Linked DNA regions of Homo sapiens: regions 1 and 3 are each linked to region 2. Evidence: fine-mapped QTL for protein levels in blood plasma. A gene starts in region 2. Each other region holds a variant in brackets. All regions are shown on one strand. Distances are between the middles of the regions.

Region 1 (7,412 bases), 150 kb after region 2:
CCAGAATAATGTTTGGCCAAATATCTGGGCACCTGTGGCCCAGTCAAGTTGACACATAAAATGAACCATCACAGTATGCTTCTCAGACCATACCTGGAGACCTTGAATCTTGTCCCGACACCGTCTTTCAGAGACTATCCTGTTGACGCTCTGACAACCAGGGTATCTGGGGCAGAACTGAAGAAGCTAGGGGTGTTGCCCTGAAAAAGCAAACATGTGATTGAGGTCAGATGACACCTTTAAACACCTGAAGTCTTGTCTCATGGAAGAAAGACGAAGGAATTCTTTGTTCTAGTAGGCATGGCTCAGACTAGTGTATAAAAAATGAATCTAACAGAACAGAAATCTGCTGTCTTGGGAGCTAGTGAGGTCTTCTTTCTGGAAGGGTGCAAGCAGAGGCCAGCTGTGACCAGGAGTCAGAAGTCTTAAGTTCTGGTCTGGGCCTGGTGCATGACTCTCTGGCCTTGGGTAGGCCATTAGACTCTCTGAGGTTTCCGCTTTTCTGCTGTAGAGGTCACCGTAGCCTGCCTCACAGTTCCGCAAATCAGATGGAAATAACATCTGAACAATACCTTCTAAAACAACACCTTCTAAAACTCAGCTGTAGCCTTGTCAGGGTCAGGAGAGCTGGCAGTCAGGAGGGGAGTGCTAGCTCACTCCTTGCTGAAGCTGAAAATTTCCACTGACCTGCAGTCAGGGACACCTCACTGCAGCTTTGCTTTCTTCTTATTGGAATGTGCCTGAGGAGTGGCAGTTAACTCCAGTTCCAAATTCCTCAGCCCTGAGTGTATGAAGCTTATTGCTGCTGGCCCGTGAGGACAACAATGCCTGGAGGGAGCAGAGGGAGTTGTTCCTCCTCCACGAATCAGCCCCATCACCAGCTTCATCACGGCATCGCTCTTTAATTACTTCAGGACACAATTCGGAGTTGCCGTTGATATCTTCTGTATTTGTGCTGTTTGCTTTCTTGCCTCTGGAATGCACCAGTGTGACATCCCGCTTTCCGCTCTGAAAAACGTACTCTGTGTATAATGTATATAGGGTTGCTGTAGTTTATGGCCACAACATGAATGAGAAACAAGAAGCAGAACATCCAGGGTTTCTCGTCTAAACATTCAGAACTGTGCTGGCAGTGGGACAAAGGCCTCTGGACTGTTGTGGGTTTTGGTGACAGCCTTGATAAAAATGCCTTTTTAGTACAAGTGAAAGGAAGATTTTACTACAGTGCAAAAGTCAAAAAATTAGATAAACATTGTTGGAAGTTCAGTGTTGATGAGTAGCTAAGCCTCAGAGAAGTTACACTTAGGTGGGCATGGTTATTTTTTGGCAGGAAAATGACCTAGGATTTTTTTCTTATTCAGGCGACGTCAAAACAAGGTTAGAGCTACATGTTCCCCTCTGGTTTTGTTTATAACTGGCATCAGGACATTCAGAAATGATCGTGACTACACTTGACAGCACTGATACGTAGTAAGTGTGCAGTCAGTGGTAGCTGTTGTGAGTAGCTTTGGTTTACACCGAGTTTATTAGTGATTAATTCAGGGCTTCCACAGAGCCCTGTGTAGTTCTACACAGCTACCACTGACTGCACACTTACTACGTATCAGTGCTGTCAAGTGTAGTCACGATCATTTCTGAATGTCCTGATGCCAGTTATAAACAAAACCAGAGTGGAACATGTAGCTCTGTACCATCTGTGTGGCCCGGGCATCAGGATATCTAGAAACTTTTCAGGTGATTCTAGTTTTCAGCTTGCAACATTAGTAGGTCATGGAATCAATTAATTGAAGTACTTTTTTTTGCCAGCGTTTTTAGAAGATACGTTTATATAATTGTATAGAAAATATTAATGCCTAGCACAGTAGCTGGGAAAATATAATTTTGTGTGTGTTAAAAATGCTGCTGTGATAGAACCACTAATAAAATCCCTGCCCTCGACTTGCTTCTTAGTCTTACTTCAGAAACTGCATGCTTTTCGTTATGAATAAATGGTTCATGTGAAATTTAATACAAGACATTTATAGTTCTATGACCTGAGAATTTGTGAGCCTTCTTGCCCACATTTTGAGGTTTCACTCTGACATTGAAAAAATCAGTTATTTTATAAATGCTAGCCAACAAAAATGGCATACATATTTTCACCAGCAACTAAATTTGATTATAGCACAGCAACAAGATGATGATTTTCCTCCTTTGGATGTGTTAATTACACATATACCATGATATGCTAGGTCAGCAGTGGTCTAAATACATTCAGCAAGAATGAGGTACTTGCATACGTCATCCTGAAAGTTTTATTAGATCAGTTTAACAGCCTCTTGACTTCATTATCTATGGGAATTTGGGGGTCTTACACAATAAACTGTTACAAACATTCATCTCACTCTTATGAAATAGAGCAATGTGATAGAAAGGCTGGCAACCTTTGGCCATTTTTATCTCAGTGCTGAGGTGAACATAAACCAAGAGGACTCTCGCTGTTTCCCTATTGTGATGACTCTGTTGGCAGATGCTGCAACTGTGGAAGACCTGAAAGTCGTGATCAGTTGCTAGCAGGACTTTGGGATCACTTGTCTTGATCCTGAAGCTTTTTATAAGCCCACGAGAACATTCATCAAGGCTTCCCACTTGACTTGAAATACATTCATTGTAAGATTGGTCTTCGATTTAGATTTCTTGGAAATAGCAGTGATAATTCTTACGATTACTCAATGTGCAATGCAGTCCGTCCTCACAAGGTTCTTTCAGAGTTCAGAGGGACATCCTGCATTGGTAGTTTTGCCTTTGTCTGGGAGGACTAGGCTTGGGATTATTCCTTGAATCCGCTGCTTAAAAACGCTGATCTGCTTGTATAACAAAGGGAAGAGGTTCGATTTACAAGCACTTCGATTTGAGAAGTACTTTCTCTAATTATGATTCAGCTCCGGTGACTGCACCATGTTAAATACGCAATTCTCTTTCCTCTAGGTGTCTGAGGGTTCTGTGGTCCAGTTTTCATCAGCAAACTTCTCCTTGACAGCAGAAACAGAAGAAAGGAACTTCCCCC[A/G]TGGAAATGAACATCTGTTAAATTGGGCCCGAAAAGAGTATGGAGCAGTTACTTCATTCACCGAACTCAAGATAGCAAGAAACATTTATATTAAAGTGGGGGAAGGTAAATTTTATGTGGCTTCAGTTAATGACTGATTTATGACAGGCAATTGTTTTCTTTTCTGAAACCAGGTGGTTAGGGCAAGGAATCACAGAATTACAGAATGTTGGACCTGGAAGGGACCTGAGGGGTCATTTGGCCCCAGGCCTCTCCACCGCCCCCCATATTCCCTCCCTTCTTTTTTCCTCCTGGGGAAGCAGGCCTGGTTATGGCCAAGTGAAACACAGGGAGGAGCAGGGGGAGAGAGGAGAAGGTTGTTGTGTGGGATTTAGAAGACACCCATGCACAGAAGTCAAAAAAAGTAAGTGGAGGTGAGAAGCTGAGGGTGTGGGAAGGAGGTGATGACTGATGGAGTGGAAGAGCTGGCAGAATGAATGGGTCAGCAGGTGGCTTCCTCTTACCTGTGTTCTGCAAACGTTTGAAGCCTGTGTCAGTTTGTGGTGCTGAGACATAGGTTACATTTTGGACAATAGCAAAGGAAAAGTATTTAAATATATTTTTAGTACAAATGACTATTACAAGGACAAATTATTGGAGAAAAGAAGTGTAGGGTCTTGATAAGAGATTGCCTATTTAAATTTCCTTGCATTGCAAAGGGATAGAAATATCCAGAAACCCAGTTTTGAAAGCCTTTTTTAAAACAAAAACAAAAACAAAAAACCTTCTCTTTCTTTCTCATTCTTTCATTCTTTCATTCTTTTCCTCCCTCCCTCCCTCCCTCCCTCTCTCCCTCCCTTCCTTCCTTCAACAGGGTCTTGCTCTGTTGCCCAGGCTGGAGTGCAGTGGTGCGATCAGTGCTCACTGCAGCCTCAACCTGCAGGGCTCAAGTGATTCTCCTGCTTCAGTCTCCCAAGAAGCTGGGACTACAGGCATATGCCATCATACCTGGCTAATTTTTACAATTTTTTGTAGACACAGGTCTTGCTGTGTTGCCCAGGCTGGTTTTGAACTGCTGGTTAAGAGATCCTCCTCCCTTGTTCTCTCAAAGTGCTGGGATTACAGGCATGAGCCACCGCACCTGGCCAGACCTTTTTTTAAAAATCATTATTTTCAGTTGAGTATATTTGGAACCCCCATAAGTTACTAGGAAATAACTCTTGTGAATGGGTCCTTGTTATAGCTGGCTGATTGTGTGAACACTGCGTTTAAGGTCTTCAGCATCCAGCTGCTTTCTGTTAAATTCTACAGCAGCTGTCACCTCCTCATAGACAAGACAGGGAAGGGTGGGTTAGTGAACACTTGATCCCAACTCTTATTTGGATCTGGGCTGCTTTAAAGTGTGTGAGAGACAGAGGCAGGAAAGGTGGACGTGGACGTCGGAGAGGATGCTACGTGCAGAAGCCATTTCAGGGGCCTTCACGTGCATCCCACTTAACCCCACAGTAACCCCAGGAGGAAGATGTCATTTCCACCGTTTTACAGAGGGCTTAGTGGAGGGCTAAGTGAACCTGCTCACATCCAAGTTACTAACAAGTGACAAAGCCAGAACACAAACCCAGGCTTCCTGACTCTTGAGTTTAACGCTTGTTGCCTGAGCTGTACTTTAAGTCCTAGCCAAATAAGCATAACTCAAAAAGGGAAGTGGTCCACCTGGATGAACATCCTTGTTTAGTTGAGGCAGAGAGAAGGGGACTTAGAGGAGGGCTGGGCTCAAAAAGTCTAAGTTTGTTTCTGTACTCTCATGATAGGTAGCTAATAACAGAGGTCAAATCCCATTGAGACAAAATGAAAAATTTCTTTTAATAAAGACTCTAAGCCCTGGCCAGCGGGCCGCGTTTCTGAAGCAGAATTCTAGTAGCATGAAAGAATGTTGATTACCCCTTGGAATTTGTTAGAATAAGAAAATTTGTTATAATAACATTTAGAATGTTGGACTGTGTTCTCTCGGCAGTGCATGAGCTTCTTTCTAAGCACAGTAGTCACTTACCCTGAGAGCCACGGGTTGTCACTTAACTGGTTCAGCCTGTGCACACTGGGTAGGGGAAGCCAACTTAAAGGACCTTGTGTCTGGTGCAGTAAAAACTGTTAACTCCTTGGTAACACCTTCGGAACCCCTGAAACTTGACTCCAGCCACCAGTTGAGTATGAGTCACCGGGCCATGCCGTGGAGAGAGGAGCAGTAGGGAAAGGAGGTTCCTTGGTGAGGTCAGTGGACCATAAAGTGATATGTTTATCACCACGGCTCAGACTGCACTGAGCAAGCTTCATCCCCCACTTCCCAGAATCCGACCTGGCTCTACCTTTCTTGTACCCAGCGATCGCAGGCCATGAGGCCTGGTTGCTCTAACCCGAGCAGTTCTCAGAGTGTGGTTTTTGCCCCAGCAGCATCCGCATCACTTGGGGACTTGATGGAAATGCCAGTTCTCAGGCCCAACCCAGACCAACTGAATCAGGAACTCTGGGGGTGGGACCCAGCAGTCAGTGTTTCAATCAGCCCTTTAGGAGATCTGATGCTTGCTGACGTTTGGGAACTGCTCTCATCTATATACCCAGAATGAAAGAATTTAAGAGTTTTGCTCTTATCCCAGCTGGTCTTGCTGCGAGGCTTCAAGCAACATTGACTTACCACCAGAGCCTCAGTTTCCACAGCAGGAAAATGAGGTGTTTGCATTACCCCCCAGGTTCATTCCTGCTCTCAGAGTATATCCTTCTGTGTCTCAAAGTCATTTGTCAATCTTTCCCTAAAATACAAATAAGCATGTGACTCCCCCTGCCCCCAAACTTGCCAGGTTTCTACCCGGGAATTCCCCTTTGTGGTTTCCTTTCTACTTGGCACTCGGTATAAGTTTTGATGCCAGGCATTCGGAAAGTCATTGGGGAGCGGGGGAGAAACCACACACAACAAAAGTGGTCAGCTTATTCAACTTAGTGACAATGGCTTCTGGGACTAGAGCCCTTAATAACATCAACTTTTGAACAATTAGACCTTTCCTAGTGGCTTCACATGAGTGAATATTTTGTTATTTGTCTCAAATCTCACATCATTGTTTGTTAATTCAGGAAACCTATACCATATGCCCACTATGTGCCAGATACAAGCCAGGCACACCTATGAACTGGATATGCCGGCCACAATCCCAGGAGGGCCCTAGTCTCTTGAGTTCCAGACTGTCCTGTCCCTGGCCCATAGACGCTCTTTCTTAATTAAATTTCAACCTTGCCGTTCCAATATCATTTTCCATCCTGTGATGTGGGGGAGGCATCCGCAGGGCTGCAGCTGCACGGTGTGCATACCTCATTTGCTCATCTGGCAAAACCCTCAGCAGATGTGGAGGGAGGCTGCTCTAGCAGCCTGAGTCAGTGGAGCCTTGAGCTTTTCTCTCTGAGGGGGAGGGGAATTAGAGGAGACTGCAGAGTGCAAACCCAATGCTCTCTCGCAACGAGCCGACAAACAGAGGCTTTGGTCCCCTTTGTTCTGGGGTGGTGCTGGGGGTGCTGTGGTGGCCAGAGCCATGATGCCCCAGTGTGTGCTGCGGACCTCAGCACAAGGGAGGTTGCACAAGTGGGGAGGGGGAGGGACAGTATCAACCCAGTCTTGGGACCCCCTGGTTGGATTCCTTACTCCAAAGTGAGACTTCCATGTGGACTTGAACCCTGGCATCCTGTCCTCAAAATGGAAAAGGCAGAAGTCTGTTTTATAGTAGTGCCAGGCCTCTGATTAATTATCCCTTCTGAAAAAAGCATGCTACACCTAGAACTTCCTTGACACTGGTCCCAGCTGTCACACTGCCAGCAGTTTCTTTCAAGTTCTGTTGAAATATTTAAGCCCGTGGATGGAAATCCCATCAGCCGCCGTGCTGTGTAAATGGCATGTGCCGTTGTGGGAGTGTCTTCAGATTCTGGTACTTGCATCACTTTCCCGGGTGGAGGTGGTGAGCAACTCTCAGCACAGTGAGATAATGTTTGCGAAAGCACTTTGTAAACTGTAAAGTGCCATATAAACTTGAGTTGTCTGTGTTCAGATTGTGAGAAAGAGTGAAAGTCTGCCTTCTTTATTTCCCCCAAATTCCTACCTTTCATCTTCAGAGTATAAAGTGCTGTGAGGAATACATATGAGGGAAAGATTAATTCTACATGGGGTGTCGGAGGATTAATTAGGTGGTTGCTTCTCCTGATAGTTGAAATAACAAATATCCAAGGAGGAGTGCATTTGGGGATAGAATGGATTGAATGTTAAATACGCTGACCATGAAATACATAAGTATTGGATTTTTAGATAGGAGATGCTTGGTAGACAGATGACAGTATAAGTCAACTGCTCAGA
Region 2 (7,412 bases):
CTGAGATCGCGCTGCTGCACTCTAGTCTGGGCAACAAGAGGGAAACTCCGTCTCAAAAAAGAAAGAAAGAAAGAAAAGAGGTAGGGGAACCCTTTTTTATAGAGCTTTGCTCAGGAACCAAAAATTCAAGTTTATTTTAAACCTTTCGTCTATGCTTGAGGTATCTGGATTTCTGCTTTTAATATCATATTGTAAAGATTTAAAGAGAAAACATCTCTGTAGACATTGTTAATTTTGTAAATACTGATGTAATTTCTTGTGTTTTTCCATATCATCTACTGAAACTAAATAGCTCAGAATTAAAAAAAAGAGCCCTTTTATTTTGCCAGTCTATAAAGCTTCTGATGACAGGTAGAAGAACCTGGTGGTTAAGGACTTAGGTTTTGAGGTCGGTGGATGTGAGATTGAATCGTGGACAGGTTTTGAGGTCGGTGGATGTGAGATTGAATCGTGGACAAGATCTCAGTTTGTATAAAGGCATGTATATCGGCCTCATTTATACATATTCTTAGAGGGCTGTGAGAAGTAAATGTGTTTATATGTATAGAATTTAGTACCCATGGCCAGGCGCAGTGGCTCATGCCTGTAATCTCAGCAGTTTGGGAGGCCAAGGCGGGTGGATCACTTGAGGTCAGGAGTTCGAGAGCAGCCTGGCCAACATGGTATGAAACCCCGTCTCTACTAAAAATACAAAAATTAGCCAGGCATGGTGGTGCGTGCTTGTCAATCCCAGCTACTCAGGAGGCTGAGGCAGGAGAATTGCTTGAGCCCAGGAGGCAGAGGTTGCAGTGAGCTGAGATTGCGCCACTGCACTCCAGCCTCGGCAGCAGAGCGAGACTCTGTCTCAAAACAAAAACAAACAAACAAAAAAGAATTCAGTACCCACGCTGGCTCAGATGTTGATGGTTACTGTTGTGAATCTGGCTCTACGGGGACCAGTCACTTCATCACTCTTTAAAGACAAGACACTCCTAAATTATCTACCAGGCCATTTTATTTAGAAGGCCTTAACATGATTGATACATTTAATTTAATTTTATTTTTTTGAGACAGAGTGTTGCTCTTGTCCAGGCTAGAGTGCAATGGCACCATCTCAGCTCACTGCAACCTCTGCCTCCTGGGTTCAAACGATTCTCTTGCCTCAGCCTCCCAAGTAGCTGGGATTACAGGTGCCCGCCACCATGCCTGGCTAATTTTTGTATTTTAGTTGAGATGGGGTTTCACCATGTTGGTCAGGCTGGTCTAGAACTCCTGACCTCAAGTGATCCACCCACCTCGGCTTCCCAAATTGCTGAGATTATAGGCATGAGCCACCTCACCTGGCCGATGCATTTAAATGTGGGATTAAATATTCACACCTAGTTCAAGTGTTCACATCTGTACTTGAAACTAAAACTTGTTAACAAGGCATAAATACTGTATTAGTCTGTTTTCATGCTGCTGATAAAGACATACCCGAGACTGGGCAATTTACAAAGGAAAGGTTTATTGGACTTACAGTTCCACATGGCTGGGGAGACCTCACAATCATGGCAGAAGGTAAGGAGGAGCAAGTCACATATCACGTGGATGGCAGCAGGCAGAGAGAGCTGGTACACGGAGACTCCTGTTTTTAAAGCCATCAGATCTCGTGAGACTTATTCACTATCATGAGAACAGCACAGGAAAAACTCATCCCCAAGATTCAATTACCTCCCATTGGGTTCCTCCTAGGACACATGGGGATTGTGGGACTTACAATTCGAGATGAGATTTGGGTGGGGACACAGCCAAACCATATCAAATACTGTTTAATTTGAGTCTAGGAGAAATCTTAAGGCCTTAAACTTAGACTTTATAAAAGCAGAGGCTAGCTCCATCTGGACTGTTTATTCCTTCAGAATATTATGCCTACTTGTATTCCCAATGCCTGACTCAGGGCTCTCCCATAGTCAGTGCTCAATGAATATTGGTAAGGAAAAAAATGGTTCAGTGAGGAGATTTTTGCAGTAATTCAGGTGACTGATGACATTTGACCTTTGTGAATGAATCTCCAATTCTGCAATTGGGTGGATTCTCTGCCTATAGGTACAAGAGGAAGAGGACGAGAAATATTTCCTGTTCTCTCAATAACTTTCCAAATAACATGTCATAAGAAGCCTCCTCATTCTACTCTCCAACATATTAAAAGCCTAGGATTGAGCCAGGTGCAGCGGCTAACGCCTCTAATCCCAGCACTTTGGGAGGCCAAGGCAGGCGAATCTCTTGAGCTCAGGAGTTTGAGACCAGCCTGGGCAACTAAGTGAGACCCCCGCCCTGCCAACCCCCTCTACAAAAAATACAAAAAGTTAGCTGGGCGTGGTGGCATTTGTCAGTAATCCCAGCTACTCAGGAGGCTGAGGTGGGAGAATCGCTTGAGCCTGAGAAGCGGAGGTTGTAGCGAGCTGAGATTGAGATTGTGCCACTGCACTCCAGCCTGGGCGACAGGGCGAGACTCCATCTCAAAAAAAAAAAAAAAAAAAAAAAAAAAGGCATAGGTCCATAGCCCTTTAGAACTGGAAGAAGCCTTCTAGGCCAAGCCCTTCATTTGAACTGAGCCTTGACGGGTATTAGCCGTTAGCCATTTGTGGAAGGTCGCACAGTAGTCAGGACTGGAAGTCTGGTCTTTGAAACCTGTCAGTCCACGGTCATTTCACCTGCCTGTTTGTAAAACAATGTCCTGTTACTTAAGTATACTTTTTAATAAGAAAAACTGGGTGTAAGCAAGAGTATCAGAGTGGTGTTCTGGTGCCAGCAGTTCAACTTCTGCAGCGTGTACTTCACAGGCACAGGTACTTAGGACGTCGCACAGGCACAGGTACTTAGGACGTTGCCCCGCCGAGACTGTCGTTCATATCGCGCCCACCTCCGGGTAACGCCGGTAATGCTGACCTAGCTCCATTATTTGTATTAATTTATTTAGCTAGCAGGGGGAACGGCTGGGTAATGCAGTCTCAGCTGCTGGAGGGGAAGAGGCAAGACTCCGCCGGCGCCCACCATCAGAGCGTGACAACAAGCGGGACCGGAGGTTGGGAAAAAGCACAGGGACAGAATGAATGTGTGCATGGGGGAGCTCTGCTGGGGAGAGGGCAAGAGGCTGTGATCAGATTATCTGAGGTTTCAGAACTTTTATATAAAGACCAAGGAACCAAATGAAAATCCAACTCTTCCAGGGAGCCCTGGAAAGTTCAAAGGACCTCGTTTGAGGGAGCGAGTCCCCGCAGCTCGTGCCCACGTCTCCCTCGCGCTTCCCCCAGGACAGGGGCCGCCCCAACCCGGGCACGCTGAGCCCGGCCGCGCCCCTAGCCCCTTCTCTCTCGGCCTCCTCGTCCCGAAGGGAAGCACAGGCTCGAGCAGCATTCGGGGCTCATCCATCAGCCGCGGAGGCAAAGGGGGAGGAGAGAGGAGGCGGGAGGCGGGAGGCGGGAGGAGGAGTTTCTGGGCGGCCGAGAGCCCCCGGTGGGGCCGGCGGAGGAGCGCCCTTCCCCCCGCGCGCTGATTGCTGTGGCGTCCTGCCCGTCCCCGCCCGCGTGTGTGCGAGGGAGGGCGAGTGCGCCGGGTCGGCCTGATGGGGGTAATCGAGGGTTTCGGGGACGCCGAGCGGCACTTTCCTCTTCCCAGCGAGTGAAGGAGGGCAGTCGGCGGCTCTCGCGCCCCGGCCACTTTCCCTGCGCGATTCCCGGAGCTCCCTGCAGGAGGTGAGAGTCCCCAGCGGGTCCGGATGGCGTAGTTTTGCCGCGGCGCAGCAGCTGCCGGAGCTCGCCGCCGCCGAGCGCTGGGCGGGGAAACTTGCCGCCGCTTTCCTCCAACTTGCTGCGGGTGGATCTCCGCTGGACACACCGCCTCCGAGGTACGTGCCGGCCCAGCCCCGCGGCGCTGCAGCCCGCCCGGGCTGTGGGCTCTGCAGGCTGCGCGGGTGCCCGTCGGCGCGGCGCGGGCTGCCAGTGCCTACTTACCGGCCAGGGTCGCTCCAGCCGCCAGGACCTCCGGCCTTGGGAGGGAGGCGCTGGTGGGGCGGTGTTTACCCTCCGGGGAGCAGGCACCGGTGGCCAGCGGTGCGTGGGCAGCGGCCGCACGGGGCAGGCAGTGCCCCCGGCGATGCGCAGTGCTGGGGAGGAATTCTCCACGCCCGCCCTCACTCTTCCTCTCCGCGGGTCCTTCTGACCCCTGCGGGGCGCGGCGGCCACTTCCCTCCGGGCGCGTGACAGCTTCGGTGGGAATGGTTTGTTGTGGGTTCGCAGTCAATTGCCGTGGCCCAGGCTGTGGCTCCCGGACTCGTGCACGGACGCGGTTTGCGTTCCCCGCTGGCCGCGCCCTCAGGGTGCCTTGCGGGCTGAGCCGCAAGCTGCAGCTCGGCCCCCCCCCGCCCCGGTTTATTTTGAAGGCTCTCTTCTTGTATTCATTTGGTTAGGACAAACTTGGAAATCTTGGACTGTCGCTAGAAGAATCTGCTTGCAGACTTGATCTTATTAGGGCATTTGCCCCGCTTTGCAGAATCGCATAGTGTCAGGAGCCGACGTGTCAAGCATGAATTACCTTGGCAAAGTAGAACTTAGTGGATTTGGTGTCCTCACGAAAAGCTGGAAGAAGAAAACCGTTCCATTTCCCTAGCTGTGAAGTGAGGATAGTAGTACTTGCCCCGTAAAGTTGCTGTGAGCATCTAATGATTTAATGTGTGTGAGGTGCTACAACAGTGCTTGGCACCGAGTAAGCACCGCACGGAGGTTAGCGCTGCTTGCCGCTAGCCCTGCGGTGGCAGGATAGGAGCGGCGAGGGCAGAGGATAGTAGGAGTGACAGGCTGTGCTGGGGAACCAGGCGTATTCTGAGTTTTATGTCCTTCCGAAGAAGTGAGCGGTTTGGGAGAAGTCTCCACAGGTAGTAAAAACACACGTCAAGACCGTTTCTTCTTCCTGAATGCAGAGTGCAAACAGTTACTTCAGTGTGAACTCAGTTGTTTCTTTTGGATAATAATAACAGCTAACGTTTTCTAAGCCCATACTGTGTGCACTTAATCCTCACAGCATCTCTATGGGAAAAGCACTATTAATAACCCTATTTTACAGATAAGACACTAGAGGTTAAGTTACTTGTCCAAGATCATACATAACTTTCTGTTAGTTCTGACTCCAAAGCTACCTTCCTTCCTCAGCGGAGAGCGGCAAGTGCAGGCCGATTTGTGTGTACATAGATTTGTGTGCATAGTCCATGCATCTTCTCCCATCTTTCAGCTTTCTATTTGAGCTGAACGCATATCTCTTGAAACACACATAAGGTATCTGTGATGAATTTAGGCGATTTTACATACTTATGAGGGTGCCCAATTAAAGTTCCTCTGAAACTGGCCCCAAATAATTATAAATAGAACTCTGACTTGTATTAATTAACATGGAAATTTTTTTTTTTTTTTGGTGACAGAGTCTCGCTCTGTCCCCAGGCTGCAGTGCAGTGGTGCGATCTCGGCTCACTGCAACCTCCACCTCCCGGGTTCAAGAGTTTCTCCTGACTCAGCCTCCAGAGTAGCTGGGACTACAGGCGCGCGCTACCACGCCCAGCTAACTTTTGTATTTTTAGTAGAGACGGCGTTTCACCATGTTGGCCAGGATGGTCTCGATTTCTTGACCTCGTGATCCACCTGCCTCGGCCTCCCAAAGTGCTGGGATTACAGGTGTGAGCCACCACGCCTGGCCAACATGGATCTTTATTCTTAATTTCTTTTATTAATTCTCCAGACATTGTTGATCACCATTACTTGGCTTCCTTAGGAAACAGCTTGGGGTTGGCACAGGAGGCAGGGAAATAATTCTTACCCCCTTAAGGGCTATTAACATGAAATTGATTTCATGCCATTGTGTCAGTTAAAGGATGTTGCTCTATTTCTTGCTGTTCTTTGCTTTTGGCTTTATTTCTGCATTGTTTAGTGTTTCAAGGCTTGAGCGTTTTTTTTTTTTGGCCCTTCAGTTTGACATTTGTCAACTTTAATTTTTCCTGTTTTGATGGAATCTGACCGTTACACGGCAGCTTTGCCTAACAACTGTTGATTCAGCTCATGTTTTTAAATATAAAAATCACCAACATAGTTTTGAATCCCAGCACTTCAAAGGCAACCCGTGGGGAGTTCATTGTTATTTTGAATATTAGTCAATAGGGGGAGCATAACACACTGTTGATATCTATAAGGCGCATAAACCCGTTTTTAGAGTATTAAACATATAGTTTGAAAGGGGAGGGCAAAATATCTAGCAAAATAACTAAGTTGCTTTTGGAGTTTATAATGGAGGACTAGATTTAATTTGAACTGATTAAGAATGACCTTGAGGACAGGGCCTGTATGTTGAATATATGTCAAGAACTCCATGGTGGCTGGACAGATAGATAAACACACATATAGTTTTTTTTCAATTTGTTTCCTTAAGTGGTGTGTAGGCCAGGCACAGTGGCTCACACCTGTAATTCCAACACTTTGGGAGGCTGAGGTAGGAGGATCACTTGGCCAAGGAGTTCGAGACCAGCCTGGGTAACATAGTGAGACCCCCATCTCTTTAAAAAGTGAAGTTTGTATGTAAACTAATTTTGTGTGGTTTGAATAATATTTCAACTTACCTGGGAGAAATGGAAATCCAGAGGAATTTGTTGTGAATCCTTTTGTAATGATCCTCATTTGTGTTTTGTAGAAAACTGAATATAATGAATTTGTTCTCAGGGAGGTTGGTGTGTTCACAATCCTGTCATCATCTTTCATTAACATCTTCTAAGTGCAAGACAATAGGGGATCAGTAATCCTAAATAACAGCAGTTCTATTACTGTGAATTCCTCAGAGGCTTACGTTAATATTCAAGTATAGTAGTAGTTCAGATGTATCATATTTGATACTAGTATAAGTGTGATGTGTCTATGAATACTCATACTTGTAAACATAAACAATAAGAATATGCTTGAAAAAATCACACTTGACATTTATCTATTTATTTATTTATTTTTTGAGATGGAGTCTCTCGCTCTGTCGCCCGGGCGGGAGTGCAGTGGTGCAATCTCAGCTCACTGCAAGCTCCACCTCCCAGGTTCACGCCATTCTCCTGCCTCAGCCTCCCCAGCAGCTGTAACTACAGGCACTCGCCACCATGCCCGGCTAATTTTTTTGTATTTTTAGTAGAGACGGGGTTTCACCGTGTTAGCCAGGAAGGTCTCGATCTCCTGACCTTGTGATCCGCCTACCTCAGCCTCCCAAAGTGCTGGGATTACAGGCGTGAGCCACGGTGCCTGGCCAAACTTGACTTTTAAAAAAAGTTTTTGGCTGGGTGTGGTGGCTCACGCCTGTAATCCCAGCATGTTGGGAGGCCGAGGCAGGTGGATCACTTGAGGTCAGGAGTTCGAGACCAGCCTGGCCAACATGGC
Region 3 (7,412 bases), 260 kb after region 2:
ACTGGGATGCCTTTTATACCCTTTTCTTGCCTTACTGCACTGACTAGAACTTCTAGTACAATATTCAATAAAAGTGGCAAGAGCAGATATCTTTGTTTGTTTCCTAATCTTTAGAGGAAAACAGTCAGTCTTTTATTCAAAGTATGATGTTAGCTGTCAGTCTTTTGTGGATAGTCTTTAGCAGGTTGAGGAAGTTACCTTCTATTCCCAAACTGTTAAATATTTTTATCATGAATGGGTGTTGGATCTTGTCAAACGCTTTTTCTGCATCTGTTGGGATGATCATCTAATTAGTTTTAAATTTTTTTTTTGGTTGTTGTTTTAGAGATGGGGTATCATAACTCACTGCAGCCTCTACCTTCTGGGCTCATGCAATCCTCCTGTCTTGGCCTCCCAAAGTGCTGAGATTACAGGCATGAACCACCACACCAGGACTAATTTTTGTTTTTATTTTGTTGATATGGTATCTTACATAAATTGATTCTCTGATGTTAGACCAACCTTGCATTTCTAGGATAAATCCCACTTGGTCATGGTATATAATCTTCTTTACAAATTGCTGGATTTGATTTGTTAGTATTTTACTGAGGATTTTTGTGTCTATATTCATAAGAGATATTGGTCTGTAGTTTTCTCGTGATGTCTTTGTTTGGTGTGGTATCAGGGTAATGCTGCCTTTACATAACATATTTGGGAGTATTCTCTCTTATTGTCTTTCTTTTTTTTTTTTTTTTTTTTTTTTTTGAGATGGAGTCTCGCTCTGTCGCCCAGGCTGGAGTGCAGTGGTGCGATCTCGGTTCACTGCAAGCTCCGCTTCCCAGGTTCACGCCATTCTTCTGCCTCAGCCTCCCGAGTAGCTGGGACAACAGGCACCCGCCACCATGCCCAGCTAATTTTTTTTGTATTTTTTAGTAGAGACGGGGTTTCACCGTGTTAGCCAGGATGATCTCCATCTCCTGACCTCGTGATCCGCCCACCTAGGCCTCCCAAAGTGCTGGGATTACAGGCGTGACCCACCGCACCTGGCCGCTTCTCTCCTATTTTCTAAAAAAGTTTGTGAAAGATTGGTTTTAATTATTCTTTAAATGGTTGGTAGAATTCATCAGTTTAAAGGCATCAGGACCTGGAACCTTTTTTTTTTCTTTTTTGAGACGGAGTCTGGCTCTGTTGCCCAGGCTGGAGCGCGGTGGTGCGATCTCGGTTCACTGCAAGCTCCGCCTCCTGGGTTCACGCCATTCTCCTGCCTCAGCCTCCCGAGTAGCTGAGAATACAGGCACCCGCCACCTCGTCCGGCTAATTTTTTGTATTTTTAGTAGAGACGGGGTTTCACCGTGTTAGCCAGGATGGTCTCGATCTCCTGACCTTGTGATCTGCCCGCCTCGGCCTCCCAAACTGCTGGGATTACAGGCGTGAGCCACGGCGCCCAGCCTGACAACCTGGACATTTTTTTAGGAGAAGTTTTAAAATTACGAATTTAGTCTCTTTACTTGTTATCGGTCTTGTCTTACGTGTTCCTGTGAAGAGACCCCCAAACAGGCTTTGTGTGAGCAACATGGCTGTTTATTTCACCTGGGTGCAGGCAGGCTGAGTCCGAAAAGAGAGTCAGCAAAGGGTGGTGGGATTATCATCAGTTCTTACAGGTTTTGGGATAGGCGGTGGAGTTAGGAGCAATGTTTTGGGGGCAGGGGGTGGATCTCACAAAGTACATTCTCAAGGGTGAGGAGAATTCCAAAGAACCTTCTTAAGCGTGGGGGAGATTACAAAGAACCTTCTTAAGGACAGGGGAGATTGCAAAGTATATTGATCAGTTAGGGTGGGGCAGAAACAAATCACAATGGTGGAATGTCATCGGTTAAGGCTATTTTCACTTCTTCTGTGGATCTTCAGTTGCTTCAGGCCATCTGGATATATACGTGCAGGTCACAGGGGATATGATGGCTTAGCTTGGGCTCAGAGGCCTGACAGGCCTATTCAGGTTTTCTACTTCTTCCTGAGTCCGTTTCTGTAGTATGTGTCTTTCTGGAAATTTGTCCATTTCATCTAAGTTGTCTATTTTGTTGATATACAGTTGTTTATAATATTACATTATAATCCCTTTTGTTTTTCTAAGATCAGTAGTGATGTCCTGCTTTCATTCCTGATTTTAGCTGCAATTGCATTTTAATGCAAAGGTAGTATGTGACTATGGAGCCTTGAGACATTTTTATTCAGGAAAACAAGTGTCTGGAAATTAGTAAGATTTTAAAGGGAGTAATATAAACTATAGAACCAGTAGTATTTTAATGAAAGGTAGTTCCAGCAGTGCTAGGCCCAGCTCCTAAGAACTGTCGAAGATCTGGAAAGTCAGGGAGAGTATCTCTGTGTATTGTGATTGTACCATTGGAGTCCTATGGTATTACCAGAAAAGGCATGTCTCAGCACATAGAGCAGCTGGGAGTTATCTGGTACCATATAAAAACATTTTTATGGGCAGAAATAATTTGAAAAGGAGGTTAAAGTTGTCATTAAATTAGCCACCCTTATTCATTTCTATGATAAGATCATAAAGGGCAGAGTTCACCTAACTCCTTATTGGTTTCTTGAATGGTTTTCGGAAAAGCAGTTTAGAAGAAAGGGAAAAATCATAGGATTTTTAAATTCACACAAACCATGTGGCACAAGCAAATTTGTTAGTTATTAAATGTTTAGCTAGGGGATTAATAAGCCATTAATGGGCTAGAATGTTTAGGAGAATGGTAACATAGGTCTAAGGATTGTTACTGACTTGGGGATATTCTAGTGCGTTCAGACTTTAGTTGAAGTTGAATGTATTTCCCATTTTTCTTATAATTGCACAAATTAACATTTTTTTAATATAAGAAAATTAGGTCCTAAATGCAACATGCCATGCTAAGCCCTATCATAATACTAAAAATCAAAGGTCATTCTTCCCACTGAGTTTAAGGGAAAAAAAAGTAAAAAACAAAACAAAACAATACAAAACCAAATGTGAGTCCCACGAAAGCAGGGACTTTGGTTATCTTATTTTGTAGTTGTGTCCCAAGCATAGTGCTGTAAACCATGAGGACCCCCAATGGTGAATAAGTGAATGATTAATAGTAGCTGCCTGTCACTAGGTTTCACTGTAAATAATAATAATGAAAACCCCCTTTTTGTTGAAGAGATATCACAGCTCAAAGGCAAAAAACCCTCTCCCTGCAACTTTCAAAGTGCAGCTATAAAATTCCCCTGAAGAAGCGGTCCCCTGAGTGATAAAGCGTCCCAACTCGAAGTTTCAAAACTCAGCCTGTCGGGCATATCAGAATCTTGAAACAATCACGTTTAAAAACACTGTTGTTGTAAGGATTTTATTTGATTTAAATGTTGTTTCTCTTGGAAAAGTCTTGTTTTTCTAAGCAAGTTAGATGGTTGAACTGGGCATACTGGGAAAAGAGAAAAAGATGTTTTAAAAAAGGAGAATATGGTTACTTTTTTGTAGGAGTCTCTATGGAGTTTCTGATACCTTACATTTAACTTCACCAATAAATGCTTTTTTATCCAAGAATAGATTGAAATGCAATTTTATGTCAAGAATTTTCCTAAGACTAGCTAATCATAACCTTTCTTATGGGGTTATGAGGAGTTAATGCTCTAACGTATGTAAAGTACCTGAATACACAAGACAGTCATTCACTGCAGCAAGTTTATTACTTTTGTAGACAACTTCTGTCCTTATTTAACATTTTGATATTTTCTTCACTGTGGATTTTCTAAAAGTAATTTTGATTCATTAAAGGATTGCATTAAAATGTTATTTATCTTGATTACTGAACGTTTTGGCTCCCCCTAAATTTTGTGCCTGAAGCAAGTCCCCCCTTTGCCTCACCTTAGCCCCAGCCCTGGTGGATAACTCAGTGATCTGGGGATGATTTAACAAGGTTGTGCAGTGTGTACCAGGCCTATTCCTCCTTATACTGAAAACTGTTGGCTTTGTGGAGAAGCAGTGTCATCACAGTTATTTGGTGATAATGAACACAGTTCCGCCTAGCCACTCTTGATTGAACTGGGTTGATCACCTGATCCAAAGACATCCAGTCCATGGACTGCCCAGTGATCATTTGTATGCCTGGGCTTACAATGGTGAGGCAGGCTAATCAGATTCCTTTCTGATTGAAAGGGTCTAATGACTTTAAATACGGAAATTGAATAGAAGTATTTACAAGTGAAATGAAACGATTTCTGGGATTTGCTTTAAAATAAAAAAAAAAA[A/G]AGAGAGAGGTAAACAGAAGTTTATTTTTATTTAAAAAAACCTTTTATTTTAGATTCAGGGGTACATGTGCAGGTTTGTTATATGGGTAAACTTGTGTCATGGGCATTTGTTTGTTGCACAGATTATTTAGTCACCCAGGTACTAAACCTAGTACTCAATAGTTATTTTTTCCTGCTCCTCTCCCTCCTCCCACCCTTCATTCTTAGGTAGGCCCCAGTGTGTGTTGTTCGAGTTGTCCATGTGTTCTCATCATTTAGCTCCCACTTATAAGTGAAAACACACAGTACTTGGTTTTCTTTTCCTGCATTAGTTTGCTAAGGATAATGGCCTCCAGCTCTGTCCGTGTTCCTGCAAACGATATGATCTTTTTCTTTTTTATGGCTGCATGATATTCCATGATGTATATATACCACATTTTCTTTATCCAGCCCACATTGGTGGGCATTTAGGTTGATTCCACATCTTGGCCATTGTGAATAGTGCTGCAACGAACATGCACACATGCATGTGTCTTTATGATAGAATGACTTATATTCCTTTGGGTATATATCCAGTAATGGGATTGCTGGGTTGAATGGCAGTTCTGTTTTTAGCTGTATGAGGAATACCACACTGCTTTCCACAATAGTTGGACTAATTTACACGCCTAACAGTGTATATAAGTCTTCCCTTTTCTCCACAACCTTGCCAGCATCTGTTATTTTTTGACTTTTTACTAATAGCCATTCTGATTGGTGTGAGATGGTATCTCATTGCGGTTTTGATTTGCATTTCTCTAATGGTCAGTGATATTGAGCTTTTCTTCATATGCTTTTTGGCCTTATGTATGTCTTCTTCTGTTCATGTCCTTTGCCAACTTTTTAGTGTTTTTTTTTTCTTGTAAATTTGCACAGGCTTTTTATAGATGCTGGATATTAGACCTTTGTCAGATGCATAGTTTGACAGAAGTTTAGAAGAAAAGTATTAGTAATTGGAAGTTGGGTGATGGGTATGTGGGGCTTTAGTATTCTACTGTAGTGTGTATGTGTTGTGTGTTAAATTCTATAATTGAAACATTTATTTTTAAATTGCAGCTTTTCTAAAACTAGACCAATGAACACTGAAGGCAAAAGCCAAATCTCTATATCAAGAGTTGCCATTAGGCTGGGGCCTGAGTGGCCCTCACAAGCCACAGGCATTCCAAAGTTAGAGGAATTTGAAAGAATGGGTAAGCAGAGAAAGCTGGTCAGTTAGGGAGGAGAATGGAGCGGTCATTGCCAGAGATAGGTAGATGCCTAGAGAGAGTGGTCTCTGCTAGTTGCAGATTTCCCCTGGTGCCCAGCCATACTATGGTACCTGTCCTTGAATTCTTATGCCATTTCTGATCCCCCTTTGCCTCATGTTTATCTTTAAAAATTGATTCCCTTTTTCTTTAGTTAATTTGAGTCAAGCCTCTGTTCCTCTACATCAAAATAGCCATCTTCAAAACAAAGGATTATTTGTATCTGTTACAGTTGGGATCTGCCCAGGTAGAGGGGTCCTACCAATCTTGGAATCAAATGATGATCAGTGTCTTGTGGAGGATAAGGAGAGAGAGACTTGTAAGGAGCCAGAATGTCAAGTGATCAAAGTCAATTCAATCTGCCCTCCAGGTACAAATGTACCAGGAGAGAGTTAAGAGCACTTTTCCTGAGAGATCTTGACAGTGAACAGGCAGAACTAATAGGCAGTTTGCCATGGTAGTTTCCTGGGACCACATTGATCTAAGAAGTACACATGGTCACTGAACTGTCAAGTTGAACTACACGCCCTGTGTGCTAGGCCAATCTTCTCGCCTGAGGGGTCTTACATTTTGAATGCTATGAATGCAAGGTAATCTCCCATTTGGATAAGGATGAAAGGCTTAGAGGATGTCCCCTTTGCCCTTCAATTGACCACAAAGAATAAAGGGTTTCTAGGCAGGATGAAAGAAGTAATCCAGGAAAGAAGCCAGGAAAATGATTCCAAAGGGGAGTATCAAGAAACTAGTTATTGGAGGGAATTAGCTCAGAGGCGAAATAGGCAGAACTTGGTGCCCATTGTAGGACAGTCTCTGTAGAAGAAGTCTGGATCATGTGAACGCATCAAGGGTGCCAGAGGGAGGGGTGCCAACTCTGCAGCCTTGGCGTGGGAGATCTTGCTAGAAATAGAAGTTGTAAATCTAATTCAGGGAAATCTGAATTGGGAAAGAAAATATACTTGCCCTGAAGAGCTGAGAGGAGGGGGAATGGTCCACTTTGCTCTTTTAGGAAAATGAGGTGGTGCCATGTACTTCCTGGGTCAAGGAAGGTCATGCACTCATAAAACAAAGAAAAGACAGACAAAAGTGAATACAGTGTTTGTAAGTTTAAAGAAGAAAATAATAATCACCATGCCCCAACGTGCAAAATCACCAGAAACAATTTAGTGAATTTTTTTTTTAGTTTTTTTCCTATGCGTTTACATAGTTGAGATAATATATGCTGATTTTTAAGTGCCATTTATATTCATAGGTCAAATAATTTAGGAAGAGGCACTTAATGATATGTATTGTCAGTCCCTAAGTGATTTATTATCTTTCATCATTAAAAAAAATTTCAGTGAGTTAGGTCATTTAACATGAGACTTAAAGATGCACAAAAGCCATTTCTCAAGTTCTTTAGCAATGAAAAAGTTCATTTATGTTATTCTACGCAATACTCCTTTTGTGGAGAGGGAGAGAAAAGAACAGTTGTTCAGTAATTTTCTTGGCACAGGATCTTCACTATGTAATAAGCTTAGCCATTGTTAGAAAAATCTGGACAAGAACAGCACCAGTTATTGTTATAAGTGACCATCAAATCAGGCAAGAGATTCCATATGAACTGTGGGTTAAAGGATATGGCTCAAGAAATGTTTCTTGGCACTGAAAGAGAGGTGGAAACAGTAGACTCTACTGCTTAGACTCTAGCGAGTGGAGGAATAGCTAAGTTAACACTGCAGCACTGTGTCACTTAGGATGCTTTTGGCTGTAAATGACAGAAAATTTGGACTCATTTGTATTAAATAATAAATACATCTAGTGTCACACTGCAGATCCAGGTTTGGTTAATTTAGCTAATCAACAATTTCAGCAATGACCCAGGTTCTTTTCATCTTCTGGCTTTGCCATCCTAGATATATTGGG

Which allele goes with the higher level. Positions count from the first base shown, and alleles are read on the strand shown. Strength reflects both the effect of a copy and how common the allele is. Not every link is listed here.
With allele G in place of A in region 3, the plasma level of the protein whose gene starts at base 3,595 in region 2 is higher (weak association).

Evidence for each region. PIP is the chance, under the fine-mapping model, that this variant and not a neighbour inherited with it causes the effect. The UK Biobank Pharma Proteomics Project read protein levels with antibody pairs (Olink). The fine-mapping took linkage between variants from a reference panel, not from the people measured, so its PIPs are less certain.
Region 1: its variant is fine-mapped to the plasma level of the TGFBR3 protein (UK Biobank, PIP above 0.99). The variant lies in the coding sequence of TGFBR3. If it changes the protein, the assay may bind it differently, which can mimic a change of level.
Region 3: its variant is fine-mapped to the plasma level of the TGFBR3 protein (UK Biobank, PIP 0.99).

What each region holds. Positions count from the first base shown.
Region 1 is chr1:91,730,515-91,737,926 of GRCh38, reverse strand. It overlaps TGFBR3 (transforming growth factor beta receptor 3), which reads left to right. Exons shown (of 17, transcript NM_003243.5): 5 at 2,968-3,151. Among named protein-coding and RNA genes, the nearest start is that of TGFBR3, 150 kb to the left of the region's middle. RefSeq lists enhancers at 1-1,172, 5,101-5,395. The variant A/G (reference allele first, on the strand shown) is at 3,047.
Region 2 is chr1:91,882,334-91,889,745 of GRCh38, reverse strand. TGFBR3 (transforming growth factor beta receptor 3) reads left to right here and starts at 3,595. Exons shown (of 17, transcript NM_003243.5): 1 at 3,595-3,868. RefSeq lists silencers at 3,329-3,468, 3,819-3,898, 3,909-4,118 and enhancers at 3,261-4,023, 4,024-4,787.
Region 3 is chr1:91,621,750-91,629,161 of GRCh38, reverse strand. No RefSeq gene overlaps it. Among named protein-coding and RNA genes, the nearest start is that of CDC7, 120 kb to the right of the region's middle. The variant A/G (reference allele first, on the strand shown) is at 4,249.